2 linked regions of the Homo sapiens genome follow. The protein of the gene in region 2 interacts with the protein of the main gene of each other region in a pairwise test. Each region holds a gene or a part of one and is shown on either strand. Other genes may lie near its edges. The genes, in order: PRDM6 and GRXCR1.

The links.
Region 1: the proteins of GRXCR1 (region 2) and PRDM6 interact in binary tests that used the Homo sapiens proteins (3 or more experiments, as listed by UniProt).

What each region holds. Positions count from the first base shown.
Region 1 is NC_000005.10:123,172,707-123,176,532, reverse strand, and holds part of PRDM6 (putative histone-lysine N-methyltransferase PRDM6), read right to left. Parts: intron 1-3,826. UniProt on the Homo sapiens protein: Putative histone methyltransferase that acts as a transcriptional repressor of smooth muscle gene expression.
Region 2 is NC_000004.12:43,025,103-43,028,928, reverse strand, and holds part of GRXCR1 (glutaredoxin domain-containing cysteine-rich protein 1), read right to left. Parts: intron 1-3,826. UniProt on the Homo sapiens protein: May play a role in actin filament architecture in developing stereocilia of sensory cells.

The sequences.
Region 1 (3,826 bases), on a different chromosome or scaffold from region 2:
CACCAGGTTGCCCAGGCTGGTCTCAAACTTCTGGGCTCAAGTGATCTGCCTGACTTGGCCTCCCAAAGTGCTGGGATTACAGGTGGGAGCCACTGTGCCCAGTCCCAAAATCTCCTTTTTAAAGCACTTTATTCTCTCTAAATCATCATAGACATATAGCACTTCACTCTTCTCAAAGCAAAGGCAAACAGTATGCCTCACAAAAGGACAGTATCTCACAACCACAAGTAACTTATGGTTTTTTTTTTGTTTTTTTTTTTTTACCATTTGAGATCTTTAGTAGTGTTGTCTAATGACGGAGCTGTTCTGTATCTGAGCTAGCCAATACTGGAGCCACAAGCCACATGCAACTGCTGCACACTTCATGTGTGGCTAGTGCGCCTGAGAAACTGAAGTACTATTTTACTTAATTTGGATTAATTTAAATGTAAATAGCTTTGTGTGGCTAGTTCTGACACAGAAATACCCAGCTTGATGAAAAAACAGAAAGGTGCTCCTTAAGAAAGAAAGAACTGAAGAACAGAAAACACCTGGGTAGATTTAGTTGGTATATATCAATGCTGGTAAATGTTTAAGCAGAAAGAAGGCAGAGAGACAATCTTGCACATCTCCTGGCACTCCTGGTCACTGGCACCTCCTTTGCCAAAGATAACTCCAGTAAAATGTGCAATTCATTTGCTTTTAATCTGTAATTGGTTTGGTGTATACATGGGAAAAGGATGAAACATTTAACAAAATTAAGTATGGTTTGGCTTAAAAATATTAATCCTGCTTTAATTTTTTCTTCCATGGCCTCCAGGACAAAACTTGTTCAGTTGGGGCCACAATCTCTCCTTGTTCAACATCAGCCAGCCCAAGTGCAAATCTCTCAAGACTTCAAAGAGAGATTACTTAGGTCACTGCTGGCTGGGTGGAGTGAGAAAAGAACTCAGTTCTACGTAAGGAGAAAAATATTTCAGGACAGTGACAGAAGTGCAAGACTAAACAGCCTGAAGAACATCAAAGCTAGAAAGAAGATAACCTTCACACTTGGGGGATGGGGAAGAAGTGGGACACAAGAATACTGATACATTCTAAGAAACTATTATGATGATGAATTCTCTCCAGGCCCTCCTATCAGAGAGCCCCTTCTAATGTCATTTTACCCTCTGATCCCACCACATCTCTTACAAACAATGATACTTAAAACACAAATGTGAATAGGTGATGGTGTGCCCAGGAGGCTGAAGGCAGACTTGCCCCATGTGGCACAAACAGTCAAAAAGGAGAAAGGAAAAGAAAAGGGATGCAAAATAAAAATAAGCATTATAAAGACACTTTCTGCAGGAAATAAAAGAGAACATACTTGTCAGAAAACAATCCATTGTGATTGAAGGCTTTGCTTACCCCTTTCTGGAGCATACCCCCCACCACCATACTGCCCCCAATGGGAGTGCTGAGCAAAAGCACTTTTGGTTTGAGCAAAAGCAAGAAAAGCTACTTTGGCCTAGGCAATAAGCTTATGCAAAACCCCAAATGTTTATAAAGTTCCTGAACAAAATGTTGGTTGATTTAGATTCCAACAGCTGCTTCTCTTCGAATTTATTCAGGAAAAGAAAAAGTCAGTAGCCTGGGAAAAAGGAGGAAGAGATTTTTGATTTTGCTTAACAGAACAAAATCAAGTAATAATAATTCCATGGTTCCTGGACCCTCATGGGTGTGTTTTTTGTCTTTAGTGCTGATTTCTACTTTGCCAGGTCAGACAGATTTTTTTTTTCTGTGTTAAATGTGAATAACACAGTGGTTAAAAAAAATAAATAAAACAAAATAAATGGTGAGGCTGGGATCCCTGAGGATCTACGGATTTCTTTCCTTTATATCAAGGCATAGACTTTTGATGGTATCTCACATGAAAAAGCTCATGAATACAGACACAAAGTCTCTTGGATGGAGGTTGAAATATCTGGGGTTTCATGGCCAAATATTCAGTCCATTGAATAAAAAATCATTTGGACCTCAGATTCAAGGGCCTGTTTCAAATTTGGACTTGTTTGAAACTCTAACCTGTTTTACCTTCTGACTTTCTCTCCTGTGTCCCCCTTTCTTGCCTTTCTTGTACCTGGTTCTAGCAAGATTTTCCTATCAAAATAAAAGCTTTTGAGTTTTCTGAGCAAGGGAAATGCATTCTAACTATCCAGCCTTTTCACTGTAAGTGGCTGAATGGGCATATATTGCTAAAGACTAAAGGCCAGCTGATCTTTGGAATCAATCACTAAAGAATATACGTATACAGGTTGAGCATCCCAAATATGAAAATCCAAAATGCTCCAAAATCCAAAATGTTATGAACAGCAACATGATGCTCAAAGGAAATGCTCAATGATGCATTTCAGATTTCAGATTTTCAGATTTGGCATGCTAATCCAGTGAGTATAATGCAAACATCCCAAATCCAAAACAACCCAAAATCCAAAACTCTTCTGGTCCCAAGAATTTTGGACAAGGGATACTCAACCTGTATTCAGCAGTAATAATCCACGTGGATAATAACCATAAAAAGGTTCCAAACGTAGCTACTGTCATGAACAAATTTGATGTCCCATTACAGTTCTGTACATTTTTTCCGTTTAGCAATTCACCCATGTGGTTAAGAAATTACGGAGAGTATCTCTTATCTCCAAACTTTCTGGTACAAACAGAGCATACTGGGTTCCGGAACAGAAATGAGCCATTCCAGCCCTTTATACTAAAAGCAAATTATGTAACTAGAATGAAATTAGGGGGTCCAAGTGACTGGATATCTCCCTCTATTTCCCCTTATCTTCAACAATCAACTCAGATGTGATGATGTAAGTCAAGCATTTCCTCATCATTACTAAGAAACATTGTATTTTATTACTTTGCTTATAAAGGAACTGATCTTTTGAAGTAATTTTTTATTTTAACTTATTCAAGAATGATGGTGAACACCTCTCAAGTCTTTACCAACAAACTGCAGGGAAGGAACCCACTGCTTCAGTAATTTAATCCCACTCTGGCACCTTCCCAGATAACAAGCCCATTACTTCACCTCATCTGGAAAGGCTGGCAATTCCACACTTGGACATCTGAATCAAATAAGCCCATCAGGGTCCATGATAAGACAGGAGTCTCATGCCGCCTAGATTTTTGCCAGTAACTCTAAATTAGCTTGGAATCAGTATAGACCTAACAATCTCCCACTGAAATGTATTTTGAATACGTAAGCTTTCTAGTTTTTCAGGTATTTTTTCTGATAATATACATAAGTATATTACGAATTATGACATTATTATTTTACAGGACAGACATCATAACACATACATATAATTTTTTTTTTTTTTTGAGATGGAGTCTCACTCTGTCGCCCAGGCTGGAGTGCAGTGGTGCGATCTCGGCTCACTGCAAGCTCTGCCTCCTGAGTTCACACCATTCTCCTGCCTCAGCGTCCCAAGTAGCTGGGACTACAGGTGCCCGCCACCATGCCTGGCTAATTTTTTGTGTTTTTAGTAGAGACAGGGTTTCACCGTGTTAGCCAGGATGGTCTGGATCTCCTGACCTCGTGATCCGCCTGCCTCGGCCTCCCAAAGTGCTGGGTTTACAGGCGTGAGCCACTGCGCCCGGCCCCACACATATGATTTTCTAAGCGTAACTGAGATCAGACAAAACAGTCTGTTTCAGTATCTACCTACCATGAAATAGTTTCATTGCTTTATATGGCATTCAGCATAAACTCATCTCATCTTCAAAGCTAAACTTTTAAAGTTCTACTATCCAGAAATTTTTCAACTATTATTTTATTTTACCTGGTATAATTAGTTATTATGAC
Region 2 (3,826 bases):
CACAGAAAGTAGTTGTTGTCAATCTGAATAAAACAAACAATTAATTTTGTCAAGACTGTAGAGATTTAAAGCTCTTCCAAAAAGATAGATTGAATATGTACAGCAATTTGGTCACTTTGTTGATGGATTTTTGTCATTTCTTTGTGCAAGAATTGACTTAAAAAAAGGATGCACTGCACTTAAATTTTGTGTAATATTAAAATAGAAAAAAGAAAAACTTTGAGTAAAAACAAACCCAATGATGGAAAAATAGTGTACTTTAAAAGCTAAATATGAGAAAATTCCTAAGTAGTGGAGTTCTTATCAAATACTAGAAAGAATATAATGTAGATAGATCCTTGTCATTCACTATTGCTATGACATTAAATATGCTAAAAATATTTAATGACTTGTACAACAAGTGCATCAAGTCAGAATAAATGCTGGGCTGGCCAAGGTCCTACAGTAAGGACCTGCAGGGACCCTGAGTCCAGCCCTTTACTCATTACTGCTAGATTGTAAATAGATCTGAGTTCCTAGTAAAGTAGAGTTGTCAGATTTTGCAAATAAAAATACAGGACGCTCAGTTAAATTTGAATTTCAGATAGACCACAAATAATTTTTGTTTAAGTATGTACTAAATATTGTATGAGACATACTTAAGCTAGAAAATTATTTATAATTTATCTGATATTTAAATGTAAGTGGGCATCCTGCATTGTATCTGGCAAAATTTATAGGTTAGAGTTGACATAGAAGAAAAGAGATATTAATCCATCTTGGGCAATGGCTATTTACCAACCGTATAAATTATTTCAACATCTCTTTTTTTTTTTTTGAGACGGAGTCTCACTCTGTTACCCAGGCTGGAGTGCAGTGGTGCGACCTCAGCAGCTCACTGCAACCTCCTCCTCCCAGGTTCAAGTGATTCTCCTGCCTCAGCCTCCCAAGAAGCTGGGATTACAGGTGCATGTCACCACGCCTGGCTAATTTTTGTATTTTTAGTAGAGATGGGGTTTCACCATGTTGGTCAGGCTGGTCACAAACTCCTAACTCAAGTGATCCACCCACCTCGGCCTCCCAAAGTGCTGGGATTACAGGCATAAGCCACCATACCTGGACCAATTATTTCAATATCTTAATGAGTACAAACATATTTCAATATTTTCAATAACCACAACTGCTGTACCAGTGCACACTAGGTGAATATCAACTCCTGCTATGACCCAAGACACTTGTGAATGACCATATTCTTGAATAGCCATATGGTTTTCTCATGAAATATATTTGTGACTACAAGCAAAGAACAACAAAGCTGGAATGAAATGTTAGTGCTATGCAGCTTTCTGAGCTCCTTGTCTATGTGTGGCACTTCAGACACCAGGCTCTGAGCACACAAAATTCAAAATAGTAACTCAACACAATTAAAAATTATTTTACATAATGGGCCTACAACATCACTTACAAATATTACTTTCAAAGGCTAAAATATCAAATGTTAAATTCACTAATACCAAGAGTCTACTGTTTCTTCATAATTTATCCCCTTGTCAGAACAAATTTCCTAAAATAAACTTAATATATAAATACCAAAGCTACATTTTTATTTCTAAAAATAATCACAAATACAACAAGGCCATTCTAAAATAGGATCCTCAGAGTCTGCAATTCTGTGATTAGATCTCTCTTTCATTCAAAGGATTGTTGAGAGGATTCAATGAACTAATTCATGGGAGGTGAACAGCACATTGCCTGACACATAGTAGGCACTCAATACAGTTAGTTATTATTAGCCATTATTTTATTAATAAATTCCTATTGAAATGATTTTTATTAACTGCTACCTTAAGCTAAACTGCTTGTGGTCACATGACACAACCATTTTCTACACTTCTAAGAGTCATTCAATTTAAACACTTGTTCCATACTTCGCCTTCTGGTTTAAGGTTTTGCCACTGTAAGAAAGGGAGAGTAAATGTGTTTCAATTCATGTGCTATTTCTGTTGTCTTGGAGAATAGTGCTGGAAAGATTCTCGGGCTACTTCCATTCTCAGGAAAAATTAGCTATTTCAGCCATAAACGTAAGAGAGGAAAGGGATGGCTTATATCTTGTGTGGAGGAGTCTTTGCCCCCTTCTCACACCAACCTGATGTGATAGACACCACCGTTTTACAAATGAGGAAACACAGCCTCTAAGCTGGTTTTTAAAAAGTAATTATCAAGTTATAACTAGAAAGTGGAATATTGAAGAGGTCTCTTTATGAGCAAAATCTATGGTCTTCCCTCTATGATAGTAGTTTTCAATGTTTATTTGCATCCGTTTTTTCCCAAATTATCTAAACATGAGATCCCCAAATGTAAAGCAGTTGAAAGGATAAACGCTATGACTAAAGCCAAAGTGGTGGTGAGGTGGGTGGGTCTTCAGGCAACCCACTAAAGCTCCCCAGTGACCCCTCAGCACCCAGGAATCTCATTCTTGCTTGAGGCAACCCACTAAAGCTCCCCAGTGCCCCCTCAGCACCCAGGAATCTCATTCTTGCTACATCTTCCAGCACAATTTATGCTATTTATTATTCTAATAAGAATAAATAATTTAGTCATGCCTAGCCATGTCTTTCAAAGAGCAATTTGTTATACTGGAAGTCTGGTCCTAATTTAGAGGGTTCTGTACAAAGAAAACCCAGTTGGGTTATATTGGATGCTCTTATATTAGTGTTGCTCTGAAGTCTAACCCTTCTGTAGACAGTTTTGCCCACAGATCAAGATAGAAAAAGAGCTAGGAATTTCCCAAAGAACACGGACAAAGTTTGGAGTTGGAGGAATAACTGAATAACTGAAGTTGATGAAACAGACTTCTACTTTACTAATAATATTACTAATTATTAGTAACATTACAACTAGTAACAAAACAGGCTTCATTACTATTAGTAACTATTAGTAAAAATACTGACTTCCACTTTTTTTTTTTTTTTTTGAGACGGAGTTTCGCTCTGTTTCCCAGGCTGGAGTGCAGTGGCACGATCTCAGCTCACTGCAAGCTCTGCCTCCCTGGTTCACGCCATTCTCCTGCCTCAGCCTCCCGAGTAGCTGGGACTACAGGCGCCCACCACCCTGCCCGGCTAATTTTTTGTATTTTTAGTAGAGACGGGGTTTCACCGTGTTAGCCAGGATGGTCTCGATCTCTTGCCCTGGTGATCCGCCCGCCTTGGCCTCCCAAAGTGCTGGGATTACAGGCGTGAGCCACCGCGCCCGGCCCTGACTTCCACTTTCAATGAAGAGATTGACTGCTGCGGAAACGTTGACCTGCAAGCAATTAAGAATCCAGGCAGACCTGGTTGAGAATAGCACACAGAGTACTGAATCTACAGACTGTGTCTCCTCTCCTCTGAATAGTGGTTTGGGTTGAGACAAGTCACTTTGGAGTGGAGCTCAAGAGAAAAAGAATGAGAAATCACCCTCCACTTTACCTCTTTCTGTTCATTTATTCCTGTGAGTGAGTTTTAAAAGATAGATACTCAGTGAGTGAGACCTTTTACTTATTCATTCCATTCCACAAATATATATTGAGTATTCACTAGCCAGGCACTGTGTAAGGCAATGGGAATATAGCAGTAAACCAGACACTTCTCTGCTTTCCTAGTAGTACATCTCAGCCTCACCCCTGAGTCTTGGATAGGTCTGCTCCATATTGCAGTCATCTCAACTAAAGCACACGAAATGTATTGTGTCTCTAACAAAGGACAAAAACGACAAACGACAAAGATAATGGCAGAGTTTATGAATGATTGTGAAATAGACTTCCTTTGTAGCAAAGGAAATTTGAGTTTCAAATTTCAAGATGTAAGTT